Regions from separate parts of the Homo sapiens genome. Here region 1 is linked to region 2. The links come from fine-mapping of genetic effects on gene expression. A gene starts in region 2. The other region holds a variant in brackets. All regions are shown on one strand. Distances are between the middles of the regions. Region 1 holds the start of S100P (S100 calcium binding protein P). Region 2 holds the start of MRFAP1 (Morf4 family associated protein 1).

Region 1 (5,469 bases), 55 kb before region 2:
CCCTGTCTCTACTAAAAATTACAAAAAATTAGCCAGGCTTGGTAGCAGGCACCTGTAGTCCCAGCTACTCGGGAGGCTGAGGCAGGAGAATGGCGTGAACCCGGGAGGTGGAGCTTGCAGTGAGCTGAGATCACACCACTGCACTCCAGCCTGGCCGACAGAGCAAGACTCCGTCTCAAAAAAAAAAAAAAGATTGCAGTGAGCCACGATAGCACCACTGCATTCCAGACTGGGTGACAGGGCAAGGCCGTCTCTCAAAGGAAAAAAGAAACAAAGATTTCCATTCTGGCAGTCCACCCCTTTTGTTTCCCCCATTATTAACTTTACTTCTCCCTCATTATTAGTTTTTACTTTATTTAAATGTGTGTATCTGCTCCCATCTAACCTAACACGACTCTCTCTCTAGCAAAAATATTTGCAATCTGCAGTCCCTTCCCCAAAGAGGGATCCACCCAAGCCTCGTATTGTTGTGTCCACCTCCAAGTTCAGGATCTTTTGGTGATAGATCTTCTCTAGTGAAAATGTCTTCAAACATAGCAAGAGGCTTTAAATACTGGGTATCCAAAAAATGATAGGGGTCCTAAAACCAGATCCAGTTACCTACCTATCATCCAAGACCTCGCTTGAGTCCTTTTGGGTGCTCCCAACATTAGTGTCGTAAAACTAAATACAGGTGATGTGAGCAGTTGTTCACTGATGATTCTAATGCTCTCTTGGAATTCATTGTTTCTCTGTTATGGTGTTTCATAGTCTTTGTGGCAAAAATAGCATTGCATCATTAAAAGTATGTTACTGTCTGGGCGTGGTGGCTGAAGCCTGTAATCCCAGCACTTTGGGAGGCCGAGGTGGGTGGATCACGAGCTCAGGAGATCGAGACCATCCTGGCTAACACGGTGAAACCCTGTCTCTACTAAAAATACAAAAAATTAGCCGGGCGTGGTGGTGGGCACCTGTAGTCCCAGCTACTCAGGAGGTTGAGGCAGGAGAATGGCGTGAACCTGGGAGGCGGAGCTGGCAGTGAGCCAAGATCGCACCATTGCACTCCAGCCTGGGCAACACAGTGAGACTCCGTCTCAAAAAAAAAAAAAAAGAAAAAAAGATATGTTACTTTGCGAGGCGCAGTGGCTCACACCTGTAATCCCAGCACTTTGGGAGGTTGAGGTGGGCAGATCACCTGAAATCAGGAGTTCGAGACCAGCCTGGCCAACATGGTGACACCCCGTCTCTACTAAAAATACAAAAAGTAGCCAGGTGTGGTTTTGCGGGTGCCTGCAGTCCCAGGTACTCGGGAGGCTGAGGCAGGAGAATCACTTGAACCCAAGAGGCGGAGGTTGCAGTGAGCTGAGATGGCGCCATTGCATTCCAGCCTGGGTGACAAGAGCGAGACTCCGTCTCAAAAATAAATAAATATTAGAAGTATGTTACTTGAAGAAAACATGCTGTTTGGAGAGATGGAGGGGCCCAGGTTCAATGAGTGGCTACGTGACCGACTAAATGAATTACGAAGTAGATGAATAAATACATGGATGTGTGTACCCGAGCCTCCCTTGGGTCCAGGACATGGTGGCATTCACACGGCCAAAGGTGGGACTGTGTCTCAGTGGGCACTCAGAAGATGGCCAACAAATGGATTTTTATCGACTGCCTTGTCTTCTTCATCTGTCTCACCACTGCAGGCAGGCAATGAGTAATGAAATGACAAGTTTAATTAGTGAATTCTGTTTTGTGGGGAGAGGACACTGAGGTTTTAAGGAAATAACCAGTTTCTCTGAGACCAGGATCATTTCATAAGCATTTATTAATCAGAGGTACATGAGCAGGCTCAGCCTAGGGGAATAATTGCCAACAAACACTTTTGGGAAGCCTGGGACCATGGCTCTGCCAGGAATCTGTGACATCTCCAGGGCATCATTTGAGTCCTGCCTTCTCAAAGTACTTGTGACAGGCAGACGTGATTGCAGCCACGAACACTATGAACTCACTGAAGTCCACCTGGGCATCTCCATTGGCGTCCAGGTCCTTGAGCAATTTATCCACGGCATCCTTGTCTTTTCCACTCTAGAGGAGAGAGAGGCTCAAGGTCAGCAGTGAGGGTGCCTGTGCAGGGCCTCAGCCTCCACCAAGCACTGCTGCTGGGCAGGAGCAGGGCACCCACATCTGCGTCACCTTTGCTGTCAGGGCCAGGGCCAGCTGTGCATAGCAGACACATGGCATTCCTGGCCTTAAGAACTTGTGAGCTGCCTTCAGCTATCTGGCATGACATGAACTAACTTGTAATGTTTTTAGAGCGAATTGGAATTGTGCTCTGCGAGAGGGAGTTTCATTTTGAGTTTTTGCCGGGGGTTGTCTTTGGATTTGTAAAGTGCTTTACAGTGATGGTTGTTCTCAGGAAATGCATCCAGTCTTTGCTCTATTTTTTGTGCACTGCTAACTTCATGGGCCTCCCATCTCGTGCTGGCACTGAACTAGCTGCTTACACAAACAGGAACTCCTCAACACCACCAGACACGGCAGAGGCATCGCCCTGTTACAGATGAAGATGATAAGGCCCAGAGGGCCCAAGGGACCTGCCCTGAAGTCACACAGGGAGCCGGGGAAAGCCAGGGTTGAGCCCCAGGTGTGGAGCGAGCATGGAGCAAGCACCCTGAGCCCTGTTCTTCCTCTCTGCTTGGGTCCCAAGCTCTCAGGTCTTCTTTGAGAAGGCCAGGCCGGCAGGGCTCTCAGAGCCTGCCCATGTGATAGCAAAGCGTTCTCACTGTGGGACCAAGCGGGACCAGGATGCAGATCTGAACAGCAGCAGCAGGGTGTGCTGATGACCCAGCCCTGGGCCAGAGAGCTGTGTGTCCAGGTGGAAAGAAACACAATTAAAATTGGTAGAAACATATCATCTGACCAAGACACAACTGTGTGCATGAAGACCTTAGTGACAGCATGGTTTGCAATAGCAAAAGTAAGGCAGGGAAGTACAAATTCAATAGCAAACAAATAGTGGTATGGCCATGTC[A/G]CAATACCCTGCGGCCATTTCAAGTGATGTTTACAAAGTTTGTAGGCAGACAGTCACCTCGTATTTACAAAGCTCCGACTGTGCGGGGCGCTGGGTTGGGCACGGAGCAGATAGGGCCAGAAGGCCAGCCCAGCCCAGCCCTGCCCTCAGGCGGACATTGTTCTCTGACTCCGGCTTTGCTGGGCTTCAGCAGCCTCCGGAGGGAGGGCTGAGAAGGGCACCCAGGGCCTCCCCGAGGTGATTCTAATGTAACACATTAGCTGGACCCCCAGCTTTGCCATTGCTTCTCAAAGTGTGTTCCCAGGACACCTGTGCCTGCCCCTCCCCACACCCCAGTATCTTGGATCAAAGTCCTCATGGGTTCAATTCTCATACTTTGATCATTATCAGAACACCCCGAGCCCCAAGCCCAAGTTCCCAGGATGGGGCTGGGGTGTTTAATGAACATCAGAGTTTGAGAATTTATGTTGTAATGTTAAGCTCAAAAAGAAATTACATTGCATGTAAATCTCACTCACAGCAATGTTCATATGGGGAAAAGGCTGGAAGGGAGAGGAAGCGTCTGTATTCCAGGGGGGATTTCTTCCCTCCATATTTATCTATTTTTACATTTTCTACCAAAAACAGAACTTTATTTTTAAAAGATATCTTTACAGAATTCACATTTAGAAAATAGAACTAGGCCAGGTGTCGGGGCTCACGCCTGTAATCACAGCACTTTGAGATGTCGAGGCTGACGCATTGCCTGAGCACAGGAGTTTGAGACCAGCCTGGGCAACATGGTGAGACCTTGTCTCTAAAAAAAATACAAAAATTAACCGGGTATGGTGACATGCACCTGTAGTCCCAGCTACTCGGTAGGCTGAGGTGGGAGGATCACCTGAGCCCAGGGAGGTCGAGGCTGCAGTGAGCCGTGATCCTGCCACTGCACTCCAGCCTGGGTGACAGAGTGACATCTTGTCTCAAAAAAAAAAAAAAAGAAAAGAAAAGAAAATAGAAGCAATATTCTGAAGTGTTTCATGTCTTTGAAGTGATTCTAGGGCTGAAAATTTCAGGCTTTCATTTTTGATTATCAGCATCTATGTGGGTTAGCCCCTTAGCAGGTAGGCAGAGTCTGGTGGGGCCCGAAGGGGAGGGGAAGGAAGGAAGAAAGTGGGGGAGTGAGAAAGAAGGAGAGGACAGGGGTCAAAGGGAAGGGGAAATGGAGAGGGTACGGCTTCTGTTCAGCCCAGCCGGAGGCTGCCCCGGGCGGAAGGAAGCTGGTCCTGGCCGCCCTGAGGGGCCTTCTGTGAGGCTCAGGCCGGTGGCTCCTCCCTGGCAGGGAGCCCAAGGGAGGTCCACAGCTCTGCGCAGACAGGTGCCAGGATGGAGCCTCCTCCCGTCCTTCCTGCCAGACCCACTAATACCAGGCAACAAGGGGCCTGGGAATGGGAGCAGGGAAAGCGGGCAAGTGGGAGGCAGAGCTGGGGCGTTTATGGCCGGCAGCCTTGGAGGACAGCCCCGAGGGCTCAAGGGCTTGGCAAGCTTGGCAAACTTGCAAATGGCAGCCCTGGATTGCATTCCGCCCCTGCCCCCACTGCACAGGTTTGAGTCCCACTCTCCCACCAGGCCTGTCACAAATACACTGGGGTCAACCCCATGTTTCAAGGATCAAGCTGACCACACCCTCTCCCTGCTCAGATGCTCCCGCCTCCCCTGCCTTTATGCCAGGGTGGGTCCGTTCCTTGGCTGGGCTTCCAGGGCATTTCAGGATCTGTCCCTCTTGCCTCTGAGCCCCTTGACCGCCGACCCCACCGCAGCTCTCAGCCCTCTGCCTGCCACGCCTTCCCCTTCTTCCCCAGCCCCCGCTGAGTCCAGCACTGCCGGCCTGGCTCACCTGCAGGAAGCCTGGTAGCTCCTTCTCCATCAGCACCTTGAGCTCCCCCTTGGTCAGGGTCTGCGTGCTGCCCTCGCTGCCCGAATATCGGGAAAAGACGTCTATGATCATGCCCATGGCTGTCTCTAGTTCCGTCATGGTGCTAGATTCAGACCCACCTTCCTCCTGGGGGCTGGCAGGGCCGAGAAAATGTCCCACTGGCAGCCTCTTGGTGCTTTATAAGGCAGCCTCATATTGACACAGAGGGTGGGACAGTGGGGTTGGGACATTCAGGAAGTCCTGCCCCTCCCCATTCATGTGCTCAGTTCTGATGAAATGCATCGTTGTGATGACGTTTCTGGAACCTTTCCCCCAGCCAAGGCCCAGGGTGTGGGCTGCCTCCAGGCATCCACATTTTACAGTGTTCACCTGTGTCTCGGCGCCATCACTGAGCCACAGTGGCATCCTCATTCCTGGCCCTCCCTGGGTAAGTGGGCACGGGGTGAGTGTGTGTGGAGTGAGTGGTGACTCCGTGGCCCTTTGTGTCAATATCAGAGCGTGCTGGCACCCAGCGTGCTGACACGAGGAGACATCTGAGAGTGAATTCACA
Region 2 (5,000 bases):
GTTTTGGCAAATGTACGAAATGTAGTTTTCGTGGTTGTTTCCCAGTTCATAATTCTGTCCTATACATTTCTTCTCCCTCCTCTGTGTGGAACTCACACAGAAAACCTTGAACATCTTCCATTGTTTCCTGTGCCTAGCATGCCTCTCCTGCTCTTCCTGACCTCGGAAGCTGTGCTCCTCTTTCAAGGCCAAGCTCTGAAAGAGTTACTTGCTCTGGAAAGCTTTCCTAGACCTCCCCCTCAAGTGTTCTCCTGGGACATTCTATCTTTATTAGTGCTAGGGACACATGGCTTTGTTTGATTTCTACCAACTAGGTTGCCCAGAAAGTGGACTCCAAGATGAAAACTAGATGCACGTTTTTTAGGGATTAACACTTGTGGAAGAGGAGGAATGCAAGGCTGGGACGGGGGAGGAGGTGGGCTGCGTGATGTAATCCTAACAAAAGCCTCAGCAGACCCCACAAGCTCAGAAGCCACCATGTCCCTCAAAGTTGTCCCAAATTGGGGTAAGAGAAATAGCGACCTGAGATTTCCAGCCCATTACTCACTAGATGTAGGCTACCCAGGGAAAAGGGCATGACTTTGGCTAACGCAGCTCTCCTCTGAAAAGGCACTGCCCAGAGGGCTAACCAGCTGAAGGGTGTTTGTCAGCAACACTTCTAGCAGCTGAGGCAGAAAGGCTTCAATCTGGAAGGAGGGTGGGGTATCACATCTCCTCTATGTCATCCCTCACCCTGCAACTGTAATCGCTATATTCCCAGTGCAAGGCCTAGAAAACAATGTTCCAATTGGAAAGACTGAAGGTGCTTTGGCTCTCTGAAGGCAGAGGCCTGGACCACAGGATTACATGTGGTTTCTTCCCACACTAAGAACCAAGTGTGTTTCTTCCTCACCCGGTTCCCAACAGCAGAGAGAGAAAGCTTCCCTTTGATTAGAGACTAAGAGCCTCAGAAACCGTTAAGATGTTCACCCTCCATTTGACAGTGAGAACCATCTGGGAGACAGCAGATTTCATTCTTAAAGGACTAACATTTCTCAATAACCTTTTAGGTCTTTCGTCTTTTCAAGCAAATGAATACTTTTATTAACATGGTAAGTTTTTGTTTGTTTTAACATGGTAGGGTTCTGACCTCAAATATTTGTTAGGTCTGCTACTCAAATGAACTTACAGCTGGACAACGTATGAACCTTGAAGATGCCTCTTCTAGTCCAGTTTAGGGTCCAATGCAGACAGTTCCATACTGTCATCCCCAAGCCCCTCAAGGGCCTTTGCCAATCTTTCATTTTATGCCAAGTCCTCTAAAACGCATCAGGGTATTACATCAACTTGTACAGAATATCAAGATCTTATCTTCTATTTTAGGTTCCATGTCAAATAAAGCTGAGTTAGGTTGTCCAAACAAACTCACCAGACAGGTTACATAAGATAGTGTACCACAACAAATTTAAATTTTGAACAAAACACATCTCTCCTCCTTTGGTCTCACACAGAAATTAAAGTCTCCAAATACAGACAATACTATCCATTCTCCAGCTCTTCTCCAGATTCACGAGTCCCAGCCAGGTCGGCCCATCCACACTCCCCGTTGAAGTCTGGTCCTTTCTTCAGTAGTTGCTGCATGGAGTCGTCTTCCAGAATTAATGCAGCTCCTTCAGCACCTCCAGAGCTGGAGAACTCCAACTGTGAGTCTCATGTGTCACACACAGACCCAAAGTTCCAGGGAGCTATCAGGTCACACAAGAAATAGCAAAGCACCTCAAAAATTTAGAAATAACCACCAAAGCCCGGGAACAAATGTGACTGCTGCAAGAGCTTACAATCTAGGCCCTAATTCCTGTATGTGAGAGCATTTTCAAACAAAATTACTTCCCAAACAAAAACACGTTAACAATCGAAACTCATATTGAGGTCATCAACCACAGACCATAGCAGAAAACGTAGTGTTAAGTGAGACAGAGCATAGACAGGAAAAAAGAGAAAACAAAAGGCTCTCTGGTTTCGGCTTCTCCAGGGTGTCAGCCAATCTCCACCAGTTGACCAGAATCCATTGGCTGGAAACCTAAAGCACAATGGGAAGAAATTCATCATCGAGAGGTTAATCCCAGGCACAACGACCCCCAAACCCTCACGAACGCCACTGTGCAGGACGCCACCTCTTCTGGCCACCACCTGACTCACTCCAGTCTCTAGCAACGTTGACTTGTCCAACGTCTTCCCCGAAAATCCTCTATTTCCACCCCCGCTTGCTGGACGGCCCGGGACCTTGTCCGTTTCTGTTTCCTTGGCGACTCTGAGATTTATGACCCTTCCACTGAACACGCATCACGCCCAAACCCGGCCACTCTGATTATCCCACGCCGCCACCGTCAAAAAACAAAACACGAAGACGGGGCCCAGATCGGCCCTGACCCGAGCACGCCTTTATTCTCCCGCCCCACCCCCGATTCCGGTGCATCTCGATGAAATCATCGCTCTCGAAGAGCGGCCAAGCTGGGGCCGCTCCTCGGCCTGGCGCGGGTGCCCGACTTACCGCCGACCGCGCTCACGACGACTCGCTCTTCTCTATCCGCCGGACCAGCTCCACCAGCATCTCTGCCATCTTCGCAATCTCCTTGGCCTTCTCCTCGGCCTTCTCGCACCTCTTGGCCGCCCGGCCCTCGGCCGCGTCGCCCGGGTTCTGGAGGTGGTTGAGGGCGCTCTCCTCCGAGGCCTCCACCTGCGTTTTGATCTGGATGAGCATATTGTCCATCTCCCACAGCTTGCTCCGGTTCCGCAGGTACGCCCGCCCGTGCTCGCGCGTCAGCGACGCGATGTCCTCGCGCATCTCGTTGATGACCGGGAGCAGAAACTGCTCGAAATCCTCCTCGGGCTCCAGCACCTCCACTTCCTCCGGTTCCGCCAGCTCGACGATGTCCAGGGGCCGCATCTCTTCCCACTGCCTCGGAACCGCAATAGCGATGTCTGTTGGAGAGAGAAAACCGACACTCGCTATGCTTAGCAATAGAGAGCCCGAATATTCCTGAAAACTTTTACCCTTTTTCAACTTTTCTTCTCAGAGAAGCCACGGACAAGCGACTTACGCGCAGAGTAACGGCGAACAAAATGGAGTCCCGGCCGTCAACCAGCGCTCTGCGCGTTGCGGCCCCTTTCACGACACAGCCGGGCCTCTTTACGGTCAGGGGGGCGAGCTGCGGGCGCGCGCACGTCTAGAAAGAGAGGCACCGGCGGCGGCGTCGCGGCCGCACGGACGCGCACGCAGGCACGCGCAGGTACGGGACCGCACGCTCTCGCTCGTTCCTGCTTTCCCGTTACCTCTGTGCGTCACCCCTGTTTTACCCTGTGTTTGGAGGGTGGCCTCTTCTGGGTGTTTCCCTCCGATAGGGCTTCTTGAGCACGCGAGTTTACATTTTTTAAAAAGGCCTCCCGCACTTCCCAGGCGCGGTGGCTCACGCCTGTAATCTCAGCACGTTGGGAGGCGAGGTGGGTGGATGGCTTGAGGTCAGGAATTCGAGACCAGCCTGGCCGACATGGCGAGACCCCGTCTCTACCAAAAATACAAAAATTAGCCGGGCGTCGTGTTGCACGCGTGTAACCCCAGCTGCTTGGGAGGCTGAGACAATCGTTTGAAAACGGGAGGCGGAGGTTGCAGTGAGCCCATATCGCGCCACTGCTCTCCAGCCTGTGCATCAGAGTGAGACTCCGTCGCAAAATAAATAAATAAAATATAAATGAAAATTAAAAAGGGCCTTCCACACTAGAAGAGGAGGATCCTACGTGATAATGCAGCTACCCCAGGTGGACGCTTAAAGCCCCTTCCTTTCACGCAGGGGGACCTGAGTCCCCTCAGCCGTTTTATTTACTTTTTTTTTTTTTTTTTTTGGAGACAGAGTCTGGCTCTATCGCCCAGGCTGGAGTGCAGTGGCACGATCTCGGCTCACTGCAAACTCCACCTCCGGGGTTCACACCATTCTCCTGCCTCAGCCTCGCGAGTAGCTGGGACTACAGGCGCCTGCCACCGCACCCGGCTAATTTTTTGTATTTTTAGTAGAGACGGGGTTTCACCGTGTTAGCCAGGATGGTCTCGATCTCCTGACCTCGTGATCCATCCACCTCGGCCTCCCAAAGTGCTGGGATTACAGGCGTAAGCCACCGTGCCGGGCCTTATTTACTTATTATTATTTAAAAAGTTTTTTTTTTTTATTGAGGCAGGGTCTCGGTCTGTCGCCCAGGCTGGAGTCCAGTGGTGGGATCATGGCTCACTGCAGCCTTGATCTTCTGGCCTCAAGTGATCCTTCCACTTCGGGCCTCCCAAAGTGCAGAGATTACAGGCATGAGCCGTGCGCCTGGCCCTTTCTGCCTTTTTAAAGAGTAGTTTTCCTTCTTCCTTGGATGACAGTCAGAAGGGTCTGGGTGTCTTTTCACCAAACCGGCCTCCCCACACCCCAAGGTGGAGCCTGGCTGCTCCGTCCTGAGGCCCCAGCAGACCCATGTTCAGTGTGTGGTGCAAGGCGCTGTCCAGAGCCTCTGAGCCCTTCCACTGGATCCTAGGCTCTTTGGGGTCTTAGCTCTGTGGCCTTAATGCCCTAACGCCCTGGGCAGAGCTTGGCGCATATTGGTAAATTTGCCTTAACATCCACTCAACACAGAATGAGGAGAGATACGTTAATTTCCTAGCTTGTTGTCCCATTCCCAAACATCAATAAACTTTTCAGAAATCCAGCTTACATAAATCCCATGGATTTGGCTTCCATTTTCAAGGTAAAGGGACACATCACAGTTTTGACTACAGCAGAATTAAGGATTCAGAGAAACGTAAGTATATGTTTTGTTTTGACTTTTCTCAGGTTCTTAATATTTTGGTTGCTCTTGTAAAAACCCAACTTTGGGGCTTGTGTGAAAGGAAAATAAATCTTGGGACCCCATAATCACTAAACCAAAGGGGACAGTCAAGCTGGGAACTGCATCAGGCAAACCTGCCTCCCATTCTATTCCTAAAAAAG

What was found. PIP is the estimated chance that this variant, and not a neighbour inherited with it, causes the effect.
Region 1: its variant is fine-mapped to the expression of MRFAP1 in whole blood (TOPMed, PIP above 0.99).

The regions. Positions count from the first base shown.
Region 1 is chr4:6,693,482-6,698,950 of GRCh38, reverse strand. S100P (S100 calcium binding protein P) reads right to left here and starts at 5,073. Exons shown (of 2, transcript NM_005980.3): 1 at 4,881-5,073; 2 at 1,781-2,058. The coding sequence starts at 5,018. The coding sequence ends at 1,909. RefSeq lists enhancers at 2,105-2,867, 4,070-4,805, 4,806-5,469. The variant A/G (reference allele first, on the strand shown) is at 3,005.
Region 2 is chr4:6,638,789-6,643,788 of GRCh38, reverse strand. It overlaps MRFAP1 (Morf4 family associated protein 1), which reads right to left and starts at 3,104. Exons shown (of 2, transcript NM_033296.3): 1 at 2,531-3,104; 2 at 1,060-2,059. The coding sequence starts at 2,926. The coding sequence ends at 2,543. It overlaps LOC124900653 (a long non-coding RNA gene), which reads left to right and starts at 3,168. Exons shown (of 2, transcript XR_007058007.1): 1 at 3,168-3,269; 2 at 4,759-5,000. RefSeq lists a silencer at 2,067-2,136 and an enhancer at 4,110-4,904.